Homo sapiens: one gene and its partners. The protein of the gene in region 3 purifies or fractionates together with the protein of the main gene of each other region. This does not show direct contact. Each region holds a gene or a part of one and is shown on either strand. Other genes may lie near its edges.

What was found.
Region 1: the proteins of NSMCE1 (region 3) and TCHH purify together in Homo sapiens (affinity purification with mass spectrometry; one large-scale study listed by BioGRID and IntAct). This does not show direct contact.
Region 2: the proteins of NSMCE1 (region 3) and SIMC1 purify together in Homo sapiens (affinity purification with mass spectrometry; 3 studies listed by BioGRID and IntAct, with this or other methods). This does not show direct contact.

The regions. Positions count from the first base shown.
Region 1 is NC_000001.11:152,112,594-152,116,778, forward strand, and holds the start of TCHH (trichohyalin), read right to left. Parts: upstream 2,852-4,185; 5' UTR 2,798-2,851; intron 1,519-2,797; 5' UTR 1,488-1,518; coding exon 1,350-1,487; intron 486-1,349; coding exon 1-485. UniProt on the Homo sapiens protein: Intermediate filament-associated protein that associates in regular arrays with keratin intermediate filaments (KIF) of the inner root sheath cells of the hair follicle and the granular layer of the epidermis.
Region 2 is NC_000005.10:176,237,004-176,241,235, forward strand, and holds the start of SIMC1 (SUMO-interacting motif-containing protein 1), read left to right. Parts: upstream 1-1,420; 5' UTR 1,421-1,505; coding exon 1,506-1,634; intron 1,635-4,232.
Region 3 is NC_000016.10:27,258,736-27,262,383, forward strand, and holds part of NSMCE1 (non-structural maintenance of chromosomes element 1 homolog), read right to left. Parts: intron 1-3,648. UniProt on the Homo sapiens protein: RING-type zinc finger-containing E3 ubiquitin ligase that assembles with melanoma antigen protein (MAGE) to catalyze the direct transfer of ubiquitin from E2 ubiquitin-conjugating enzyme to a specific substrate.

The DNA of each region.
Region 1 (4,185 bases), on a different chromosome or scaffold from region 3:
TCTTCGTCTGGAAACTCCTCAGTTTCGTGACCTTTGCAACTCTGCAGCTGCTCTTCCTCTGCACGGCGCTCTTCCCGTTCTTGCCATTCTTGCCTTTGCCGCCACAGCTCCTCGTCGCGGCGCTGCCTGTCGCGCTGTTCAAGTCGCTCTTGTTTCTCACTTTGCTCCTCTCCCTCAGCTAGCTCCCTCTCCTGTTCCTGCCTCTTCTGCCTGCGTCGTTGCCCAGGTTCTTCTTCCAGTTGTCTGTCCCGGGGCTCGAATCTCCTTTGGTCTTCTTCTTGCCTGCGATCTTGTAACAGGCTCTCCTTTCCGTCACACCGGGCTCGCTTCTCCTCATCCAGTCCCGTGGCCTGGCCGAGAGCATAGTAACAAGCTTGAGCCACTTTGAAAATAAATAGGAGGAATTCGTTGAAATCGACACGCCCATTACTGTCAAGATCCAGAAGTTCCAGGATCAGATCTACCGTCTTAGGGTCATGTGGTCTCTATAAAAATGGTGAAAACAAAAATTTTACAATGCACTATTTACAGGTGGTAAAATTATATTCACACATGATATATTTTATGCTATGCTGACATTCAAGAGACATTCAGAGCAATTAGAAAAATGTCCAGTGTGTATCAAGTTTTGTCCCCATGTAAAATGTGAACCCTCACTTTAAAGCATATATTCGTTTGAAATTTTTACATCTCGTAATTTAGTGCTGATCAAACCTAAGGAAGCAGGAAGAGAGACACAAAGTAGAATAGCAGGTAAGCCTACGCACCTTAGAGGCAGAGCCTGAGGTGAAGATTCAAAACAGCATCGTGAACTTGTGTGTAAAATTAACAAAGCTACTCAACATCAAGAAAGAATAACACAAGTTCGCTTTAATTGAGAAAGAATGAACTCATCCTTGAGAGAGATACAATAGAAATTTATGAGGATTTGCAGTAGCCATTTCTGTCTGAAGCAGCCAGTATTCTTGATTTGGTTTCTATTCCATATTAGAAAACAGAACAAAACATTTACGGGTAGCACCATTTTAATAGAGATCAGGCTGATCTCAGTTTTGAAATTTGGAAACAAATTTAAGTTCCTCCAAGTCTAGTGTGATTTGACATCTTTTGTGGTAATGTCCCATGAAGAGCTCATTCACATGGCCATGCCATCAAGTACATGAAATACTTTATTATTCAGACTACAATGTCAAGTAAGTACCTTTTGACTCAGAAATGAATGGGGGATGTAGTGTAGACCTGTTGTGGTGTAAAATGAATATAAAACCACCATTCCTTGCTCTGGTCTCCTCTGAGAATAAATCTCATAGCCTCAAGTCAATAGATCTCATTTTCTTGTTAGTTCTTACCCGAAGCACAGCTCCAAATTCCCTTTCAAGGAGGTTCTTCAGGTCTTTCTTAGTTAATGCTGCTCCATCACAATCATGAGAGACATACTGATTGAAAATTTCAGTGATGTCACAGATGCTTCTCAGAAGTGGAGACATTTTTTTTTCTTTCCTTCAAGTTCAAGTAAACCTAGAACAATAAAATAAGATCCAGAATCAAAATCCCGTTTCTGCTTTTGGGAAGGCTTCATTCACACTATTTCAGGCAGATCCCTAAATAATTTGAATTTATAGCGGTAATTTCAACCTGGACTTTCAGAGCACTTTAATATTTGAATATTGTATCAGAAAGAGAAAGAGCGATCCTGAGAAATTCCAAGCCAGGGAATCATCTTCAGACTATCCTGTTGTCAGCTTTTGATTGTCCACCCAATGTGGATTATCTATGCCCTTTTCTTCTGTCTTTCTTCCAGCTCTCCACCGTATTTCAGAGTAGAAAATTAAGAGAAGAGTGCAGAAATTAAAATTTTATATATGTCTACACACCTTCCTTTAAAGTTGAGCGAAGAGGACAGGTAAAAGCCAAAAGGTGAAGGAAGACTTGAGAGTATCTTAAAGTGGATAGAGGCCATGTCAGCAAAACAGTTGGTAGAAAATAGAACAATGAAAAGGGAATATGAATGATTCCTCAACATTACAGTCCATAAAGGATTTAGGAACTCTTATAGAATATAATTTGTAAGTCAGCAATTCTAAGATTAAATAGTACTTCTTCCTAGTCAAAAGATGGCATTGTAACATTCAGATACACAAATGCAGAAAACAGAGACTGTATATTACCTGCCTCAACTCAGATATAGTAAGATATTCGGATATTGAAGTATTGAAAGCTTCTGAGAGGTCCTTTCTAAACCAAACGGAATCCAGAAAACTGTGAATGATATTGGTTTTGTTAAACCCAAATGCATCATTGGAATCTTGGCTTTTTATAAAACATTAGCCAGCAGTAGATCAATGTTATAAGAATACATGGAATGGCTTTGCTGGTGGGATAAGTGTAGTCGTTCATCTAGCTGACTTCTTTATGTACTTCTCAACTCCAGTACCTTAAATGCTGTGACTGTATGAAGATGGCCCATATTAGGTAGAACCAATGTAAAAGAGAACAGAAGGCTGGCAAACTTTTGAGATAGCAGTTTTTAGGAAGATGAACCCTATCAGAGCCACACATGATCATCCTTGATGTGCAGAAGTATAGAGTTCAGAGCCCAAGGAGAAGGGTCATGCTTCAGTTCAAGTGATGGCTCCAACCATAAGAAGATGGGATAGAGTTAGTGATAGTTTATTTATCCCTGCAAAATACTGATACCTTCTGGCACATGGAACCTCCCCCCATATCCCAACATCTGAAATAGCTATAAAAATGGAGAATCATAAAGAAGACCACGATCCCACAGAATGGGACTTACCCACTTCACCAGAGGAAGAAGTCGACAGTGCTTGCTGACACCACAGGCAAGTGTACTGGGTAACTGGGAGCTGGGCCTTTTATAGGGGTTTTAATTGTGCCCTGGAAAGCAACTTGGGAAGGAGACACCCACTCTGTGGGATGGCCTGATTCATTCCTAACCAAGCCCAGCTCCACCTCTGTCTCCACAAATGGCTTGTTTATCTCACTATTTGCTCACGTAGCTATTTGGCACGAGGTTCACAGACCTTGCCTCCTGACAGTCAGGGTACCAGCCCCACCTAACATGGGAGGGTAGAATATTTGGCAGAATCTCCAATTTTCTTAAATTGTTAAAAGTAAATTAAATAATAAAACAAAGGTATTAAATGTTCACAATCTTAATTGATTATTACTTCATTACAAAGGAGTAAACTCTAAGCCATTTGCTTTATAAAAGATACAATCTCTAGTTTGGGATTAAGCAGAAACTTTGAAATAAAGTGATGAAAACCAATTAATTTCTCCATGGGATGTGACAGTCCATGGTGAGCTGCTCATAAGCCCTGCCAGAAGCAGTTGCTTCAATTCTAGGGCAATGAGAGAGCTGTAAAGAATTGGTTAGTTTCTTCTCTAAAAATGCAGGTGGGAAAAATTTTTACATTTGTCTCCCGGGTCTTATGATGGTTTTCCTACAGATTGGGGACTGCCTCCTCAGTAAAGTTTGGAAGGGTACCTTGGAAATATATTTTTATTAAACCGTTCATAAGAAAACTTGAAATCTGTGAAATTTCATTCTTAGAGACATTAAACCTAAATGAAGTTTGTTCATTAGTTTTCTCATTAGCATATTGATGCCCCTGGGGAAAAAGAGCTGGTGTAATGTATTATTGTAGATATAATCATCCTGCTCAGCCTAAGTTACTAATGATTATGACACCTAAACACTTGAGTCTGCTTCTCCTGGAAGTACATTGAGGTAATTGGTCATTCTAGCCCATTATATCCATCAGGGCTTTCTCAATCTGGTTGATCATTTGCAAATTTCAGTGCTGTTTTATTGTAAGGAATTGGATTTTATCCATGGTTGTCAGTGACTTCCTTCCTTACATTTCAGACTATATGAAACTTTGGTTCATAATTTATGAAGACTATTAAATGATTCAATGGCTTCTCTGCACTTTTGTCTCCTCCTTTGTCCAACAGAGGCAAGTGTTGGTTTTCTGAATTTTGAGGCAACTGAACGTCCTTCAATGGCATGAGTGAAAATTTGGAATCTAAATCTTGATGGCTATTTCTTTATGTGCAGATTGGTCTAAATGATAATGGAGTTGAACTCTATTTGCCCCCTCACTTGCTGCCATCCTAGATGTGGGGTACAGAGGAAGGTAGAAGTGACAGGGAATGGGA
Region 2 (4,232 bases), on a different chromosome or scaffold from region 3:
CGATCTCGGCTCACTGCAACCTCCGCCTCCCAGATTCAAGCAATTCTCCTGCCTCAGCTTCCCAAGTAGCTGGGATTACAGGCGCCTGCCACCATGCCCAGCTAATTTTTGTATTTTTAGTAGAGACGAGGTGGGCCAGGCTGGTCTCGAACTCCTGACCTCAAGTGATCCACCCGCCTCGGCCTCCCAGAGTGCTGAGATTACAGGCGTGAGCCGCCGCACCCGGCCGCAATCTGTCTTAACAAACACTCTAGGGGATTCTGATGCTCACCAAAGTGTGAAAAACACTGCATTAGACAGTGCTTGGAGAGCACCTGATAACCATTCCTTTAGGAACAAATTCCCCTCCTATTAAACACATTATTCTTTGGATCTGTTAACATATTTTGCAAAACTTCTGGAGCCTGAGCAGCAGGATTTTGTCAATACCCCACATTTAGTGTACCAATAGGTCCTATCTTGATTTTAATGGTCCTGCCCTAAAACCAACCAACCAGCCAACTACCCACCGATTCCTCTACTGGGGACAACCTTTTTCACCTTTATAACTTCTGCTTATTCACAACATCTAATTATTCATGGCCTCTGCTACTTCATGGCTTCTTTTGTGCACCTTTTCAGCTTCTGATCCTGATACCAACTGAACAACTGTCTACGTCAAACTTGTTTAACTCCCTGTTTAACATTAAGAGATTTTTTTTTTCGCAACTCTTTTCCTTTAGGTCATCAGCTATCATTAGTGTATTTTATGTATGGCCCAACACAATTCTTCTTCCTGGGGAAGCCAAAAGATTGGACACCCCTGCTCTAAATCTCAGTTTAAACTCCTGAGAGACACATATTGTTGGTGAAATCGCAAACTGGTACAATTTAGGAGGGTAATTTGGCATCATTTATCAAAACTACAAAAACATGGCCTTTGCCCCAATAAGTCCGCTTTTAGGCATTTATCCTACAGATACACATGGGCGTGTGCACCAAAAAGTGGGGTCTCTCTCTCTCCCTTAGCTCGGCCAGAAGCCAGGTCACCTACCCTCGGTCACTCGGGGGCCAGGACCTCTCTCCCTGCCCCTCAGTCAAGGCCCTCTCAGTCCGGGAGGCGCTTCACACCTGGGCAGGGTGGGACTGGGCGCGCCTCACTTCACGCTTTCGTCGGTTGGAAGCAGGTGGGGAAGTCCCCGCGGCCTCGGCGTCTCGCACGCCTGGCCCCAACACCTGCCGAAGCCGGCTGCGACTCCATTTTTCTTTTTTTTTTTCCTCCTGGGAAACGGAGGACCCGCGCCGCCACGAAGCACAGCGACCCCGGCCCTGACCCCAGCCGCCCGCCGCCGGTGGGCGGGGCTTGGCGGCCCGGCGGGGCGGGGCTCGGGGCGGGGCCGGCGTGGCGGTGGCCCGGGTTGTAGCCGCCGCCGCTGCCGCCGCCCCGCCGCCGCCACCTCAGAAGCAGGAACCGAAGTCGTCGCCGCCGCCGCCACTGCCTGGGTCTTCGGTCGGGGCCCGCAGCCATGGAGGATTTCATCGTGATCTCGGACGACAGCGGCTCTGAGAGCTCCGGGGGCGCCCGCCCGGGCCGGTCGCGGAGGCCGCGCCGGGCCCTGTCGCGAACCTCCGGCGCGCTGCCCCGCCGGACCGTGGTGAGTGAGCGTCGCCTCGTTTGGGGGCGCGCGTCTTCGCGACCCTCGGCTGGGCCCGCCGCCCGCTTCCCGCCCCTGGCGCCTCACAGCTGCAGCCACTTCCCGCCTTGCCTCCTTCCGGGCCTCTCGGGCCCCGGGGAGCGCGGCGGGCCGGGGCAGGGGCCAGGGCAGGGACCGGGGAGGCCGGGCCTCCCAGGCTCAGCGCTGAAGCCCGAGAGGACTGCGGCTGGAAAGCGGCCGAGCACATGGACGAGCTCCTGGCGCGCCTGCTGCAGGGGCTGGGGTCTCAGGCCGGGGCCGCGGGCGTCCTCGGAGCCTCGGCGGGACGTGGGGGCTCGGGTGTACTGGCCGGGCCGATGCAGGAAAGCGGGAGCGCGTAATTCTTCGGCCTGTGGTGGACACAGATGTGTGCAGGGAGGTAACAGGAGCCCAGGCTGGGAGGGAGGGAAGCGCGGGCCTGGGCCAGATGGTGGCCGCGCTCCAGGGCCTGACTGCAGAGCGAGGGGCCCGATTTTGGAGTTGTACAGGAGGGCGATTTATTTCCTCAGCACTTACCCTGTACCAAGCCCTGAAGGAATAGGGAAGGAAACCTCGCGCGCTATTTCTGTTTCCCTCAGAACCCCTTCGTCTTTGTCGTTCATGAGGTGGTGAATTATCTGCCTTTCGAGAATCCTGCATCGATGTTTATTGAATCCCTACTATGAGCCAGATGTTGTAGGGGCCGGGGATACAACGGCGAACACAATATCCATGGTCCCCTCAGAAGGTGATACATCATCAGGTGGTTGTTGAGGACCTACTCAAGCGGTGGGAGGTGGAGCTTTCTCTCAGAAGGCTTCCAACGATCTCCCCAGCCTCCCAGAGCCATCCCCCGGAAACACAAGGATTATCAAGCTGATGTTATGTGTATAGATCATACAGTTTACCATGCTTCCTATGCAAATACTCGTTCAAGACGTTTCCTAGCTTCTGCTGCCCCTGTTCCCTTTCTAGCTGGTTTACAGTCCCTAAACCTCCATTGGGAACCCCTTCTGTGCCCGAGGTACAGTGCCAAGTGCTAGATGATCACTATAGAATGAATAGCATGCAAAACTAGTTAATATATATTATTTTTCAAGCAAGAGGGTTTCTCAGGACGTCTTAGAGACAAATTTAGTTGAGTTAGGCAGCTCATGAGGTAGTGAGAGAAGAGATTTCCAAGATAGAAATGACCCGACTTCATGAGTGAATGGATATATCTAGGGCTGTGGCTGAATGTATCGGACATAATAGATGCACAATAAGTATTTGTTGGATGAAGGAACGATTGAAAGAATATGGGGAGAGAGAATGGTTTAGATGGATGTTTGATAAGTATAAGAGAAGTGCATATAAAAGTAGCAGCAGGCTTGAGATGAAGGAGATGCTGAATTCAGGTTGGACCTGTTGGATTTACAGTGTTAATAGGAAATGTAGATGGATGTGGCCAGCTCAGTAGTTGGAGAAAAGGCAAGAATGGAGATATTTGGCAATCATGCAAACAGAAAGGAGTATTGAAGGCCTAATAGTGACTGAGATCATCAAGGAAAAGAGTAGAGAGAGAAAAAAGGTGGAAGGGAAAAAATACTTCTTTCCTCCTAGTTCCTCCTCATTCCTATAGCCTCTTCTCTCACTACCTGTTTAACTTTGTCCTTCCCACTTGCTTCCTTTCCTCCCAAGTGTTGTCCATTTTCCCTCATTCTGGTCCAGCTTCCTTCTTCAGTGGTCAGATGCCATGCTTATCTCAGTCTTTTGTGGTCTTTCACATACGTACATGGGCGTAGTCTCTCACTGTTTCCCTCACTTGTGACCACTCAAGCAAGCATTTTGATCTTGAGCCTTTGAGTTGAATCGAAATGAGGGGCAAGTTCCAGAGAGCAGTACCCAATTTAAATCGTGCTTCTCCAGATATTTATTCCAGCTCTCTAAAAGCTCCAAGCTTATTCTCGTTTTATCTTTTTTGCAAATTAGATAAGAGTGGTATGATAACCATGTAAAAGATCAGAGGCATTGAGAGACTTGCAAGGTTATAAAGTCTAAAAGTGCCCTTTTCTTTGTAGCTTTTCCTGAAGGCTCTGAGGTCAGAGAGACTTCTGAATCAATATCTCCAGCATAGCAACTATTTGAGTTTTGGAAAGTTCTGTCAACTCTCAGCTTTTGAGCCTGAGAACATTAATGCCTACCTAGCAGGATGGTTTTAAATTTTTAATGAGACAAATGCAAGGAAAGGATCTCATATAAATGATAGCTTTTGCCACTTTTTGTGTTGTTTCTAAGCCCAGGCCTGTCCCTCTTGAGCTTCACAGGCAATGAAATAAAAGAAGCAACTTTTACATCTTTTTTTTTTTTTTTTAATAGATATTGACTAAGGGGAAGTAACTTGCTTGAACTTGAGAAAGCCATGTCTAATGCTGAAGTTGACATTTCTGAACTCTTGATTCTTAACCTGGGCTTTAGTCTTCACTGAGTCGATGAGGTGTGTTTCTGTGTTTATCATGGCTTTTTCGTTTGGGATTTTTTGTTTTTCGTTTTTTTACTTATAAAAACAGAACATTTTCAGATGGTTAATTTTGTTGATCT
Region 3 (3,648 bases):
GCTCTTTTGTTCTTTTTTTTTTCTTTTTTTTCTGAGATGGAGTCTCACTCTGTTGCCCAGGCTGGAGTGCAGTGGCGTGATCTCGGCTCACTACAACCTCTGCCTCCCGGGTTCCAGTGATTCTCCTGGCTCAGCCTCCCAAGTAGCTGGAACTACAGGCGCCCACCACCGTGCCTGACTAATTTTCGTATTTTTAGTAGAGACGGGTTTCACCATGTTGGCCAGGCTGGCCTCGAACTCCTGACCTCAGGCGATCCACCTGCCTCAGCCTCCCAAAGTGGTGGGATTACAGTGTGAGCCACCACGCCCAGCCAGTGCTGTTCTTTAACAGCATCCTCAACTGGACCTCAGGGCTGGGAAAATGCGCCATCTCATAACCAGTCCCTCCAACTGCCTGCTAGAAAAATATCCTCCATCTCACCAAATCTGCACCTCAACAAAGCCTACGTTAGACTCATCCTCTCCTTCCACCTCCTTAGCCCCTTTCCTCTCCCAAGTCCTTCTCTTTGCAAATCATCTGGTGTGGACGGTGCAGTCCACACAATCATACCACACACCTGAGCATCGAACTCTGGTCCTCCTCTCCTTAAACCTCAAATCCAGCCTGTCATCAACTTTATTTCCTATCACTAGGGCCATTCCATGTCGATGTACTTAGCACCCCCGTATTTGCCAGTGGTTGTTCTGGGCACAGGGTTAGAATGTGCTAGGCTAAAAACAATGGACTTCTATCCTGCAAATGAAGGATCTCTACAAACTAAGGGTCTTGAAGCAGGAACATGGTGTTGCCTAGCTGTGTTTTAGGGAGATTATCCTCTTTGGCATCATGGAGGTGTAGAGGAAAGAAATGGGAGGCAAAGAGTCCAGAAAGCAGTCTCCTGAAGGGATCCTACAAAAGGGGATGAGGTATCACCGAGGCTTGGCAGTGGGGACAAATGATACGAATCACTGTCATTGTGATCCCATCAAATCTCAAGCAGAATAAACTCTAAAATATCCACCTAGGCTCATCCTAATAAAACCACACAATACCAGAGATTAAACACAATCAAAGAAAAAGTCAGATGACTTCTAAAGAGCAACAAGTAGACTGCCGGCTGCCATCACAATGGCAACAATGGAAGCCGGTCACAGTGGAAACATATCTTCTATGCTGGGAGCGGGTGTCTCAACAGAGAATTCTATAACGAGCTGAAGACTGAGGATAAGACAAAAACATTTCCAAACAACAAAAAACTGAAAGAGCAAGTGACCAGCAGGTGCTCCCTAAAGGAAATTCCAAAGCATATAGTTCAGGAAGAAAGAAAGGGATACAAGTTGGAAGGTCTAAAATGCAGGGTAGAATAAAGAGCAAAAAAAGTTGGTAAATATGTGGTTAAATCCAAGTTAACTGTATAAAACAGTAAAAATCAGAAGAAATGCTTCTATCTTTAAAAAAAAGTTTTTAATACCACAGTAAAAAGAATGAGGTTTTTAAAAAACTAAATACACAAAAATAATAACATAAATGGGAGGTGAGCAATCACTGGGATTAGTGTTCTAATAGCCTTGTGATGGTCAGGAGTAGAAGCTGGACATGAATAAATTTTACACTTGCATTTTACAATTTCTAGAGTAACAACTTTTAAAAAAACAAATAGTGTATATAATTTCCAAATAGTAAAGGGGAATAATGTAATGAGAAAAAATAATGGAAAGGAAAACCAGGATAGGAAAAACAAACACAAAAAAACAAAGTAAGTCAGGAGAAATAATCCAACTAGATTAGTAATAACAATGAATAAAAATAGACTAAATGTTCCAGCTTAAAGACAAGGACTGTTAGACCAGATTTAAAACCTTATCAAATTAATAATGAATAAAATCTACCTCTATATTATAAGAGTTCCTTATAGGCTGGGCACAGTGAGCCCAGGAGTTCAAAACCAGCTTGAGCAACATGGCAAAATCCCATCTCCACAAAAAACACAAAAATTAGCTGGGCATAGTGGCACACCTCCGTAGTCCCAGCTATTTAGGAGGCTGAGGTGGGAAGATTGCTTGAGCCTGGGAGGTCGAGGCTGCAGTGAACCGTGATCACACCACTGCACTCCAGGCTGGGCAACAGAGTGAGACCCTGTCTCAAAAAAAAAAAAAAAAAGGTTGCGGGGGCTGGTCGTGGTGGCTCACACCTATAATCCTAGCACTTTGAGAGGCCAAGGCAGGTCAATCACCTGAGGTCAGGAGGTGGAGACCAGCCTGGTTAACATGGTGAAACCCCATCTCTACTAAAAATACAAAAATTAGCCAGGCATGGTGGTGCGTGCCTATAGTCCCAACTACTCGGGAGGCTGAGGCATGAGAATCGCTGGAACATGGGAGGCAGAGGTTGCAGCGAGCTGAGATGGCACCATTGCACTCCAGCCTGGGTGACAAAGCAAGACTCCGTCTCAAAAAAAAAAAAAAAAAGAAACTATAAAAAGAACTACAAATTAAATCCAAAGAAAGGTAAAATGAGAAAATAATAAAGGGCAGAAATTAATAAAGACTGAAAATAAGCATATATCTAAGGTCAACAAAACCAAAACTATTCTTTGAAAAAACATAATAAAAGTGAAAAACTTCTGACAAGATTTTCCAAGAGCTAAAACTTATAAACAAACAATATTTGAAAAAAAAGGAAATTAACTGCAAATGAGACAAATATCTGCAATTAACATACTTAAAAATATTATCAATAATTTATAATAATCTGAAATTTAACTATGTAAAAAGTCATAGGAAATTTATTCAAAACTAATGAATGAATTATCTGAAAACCTAAACACTCCTATAACCATTAATGACATTTTATAGAAAATCCATCTTCTCACAAAGAAAACTTCAGGTCCCAATGACTTTATCAAGAAGTTCTACCAAATAGTCTAAAAACAAATAATTTCAAATGTTACACAATCGCAGCGCCAGAAAAAAAGCAAACCCTCCCCAACCCATCTGACAAGGCTAACCTAATTTGGCCCTGAAACCTAACAAGGATGTCAAAAGAAAGGAAAATTACAAGCCAGTATCTTTCATGAACACAGCTACAGTATGTCCTAAGCAAAATGCTAACAAACTTAATCCAGATATGTAAAAGGAATGACATATCATCACTTAGGTTTATTCCAGCAATGGTTTCACATCTAAAAATCAATCAATGTGAGTCACCACATTAATAAAGGAAAAAGCATTTTAAAATTCACACAGGGCCGAGCGCGGTGGCTCATGCCTGTAATCCCAGCACTTTGGGAGGCCAAGGCGGGCAGATCACCTGAGGTCAGGAGTTAAGAGGCTAGCCTGGCCAACATGATGAAACTCTGTCGCTACCAAAAATACAAAAATTGGTTGGGCGGGGTGGCACGCGCCTGTAATCCCAGCTACTCAGGAAGCTGAGGCAGGAGAATCGCTTGAACCTGGGAGGCGGGGGTTGCAGTGAGCCAAGATCACGCCATTGCACTCCAGCCTGAGCAACAGAGTGAGACTTCATCTCAAAAAAAAAAAAAAAAAATCACATGGAACCAAAACAGAGCCTGAATAGCGAAAGCAATCCTAAGCAAAAAGAACAAAGCTGGAGGCATCACGTTACCCGACTTCAAACTACACTACAGGGCTAAACAGCATGGTGCTGGT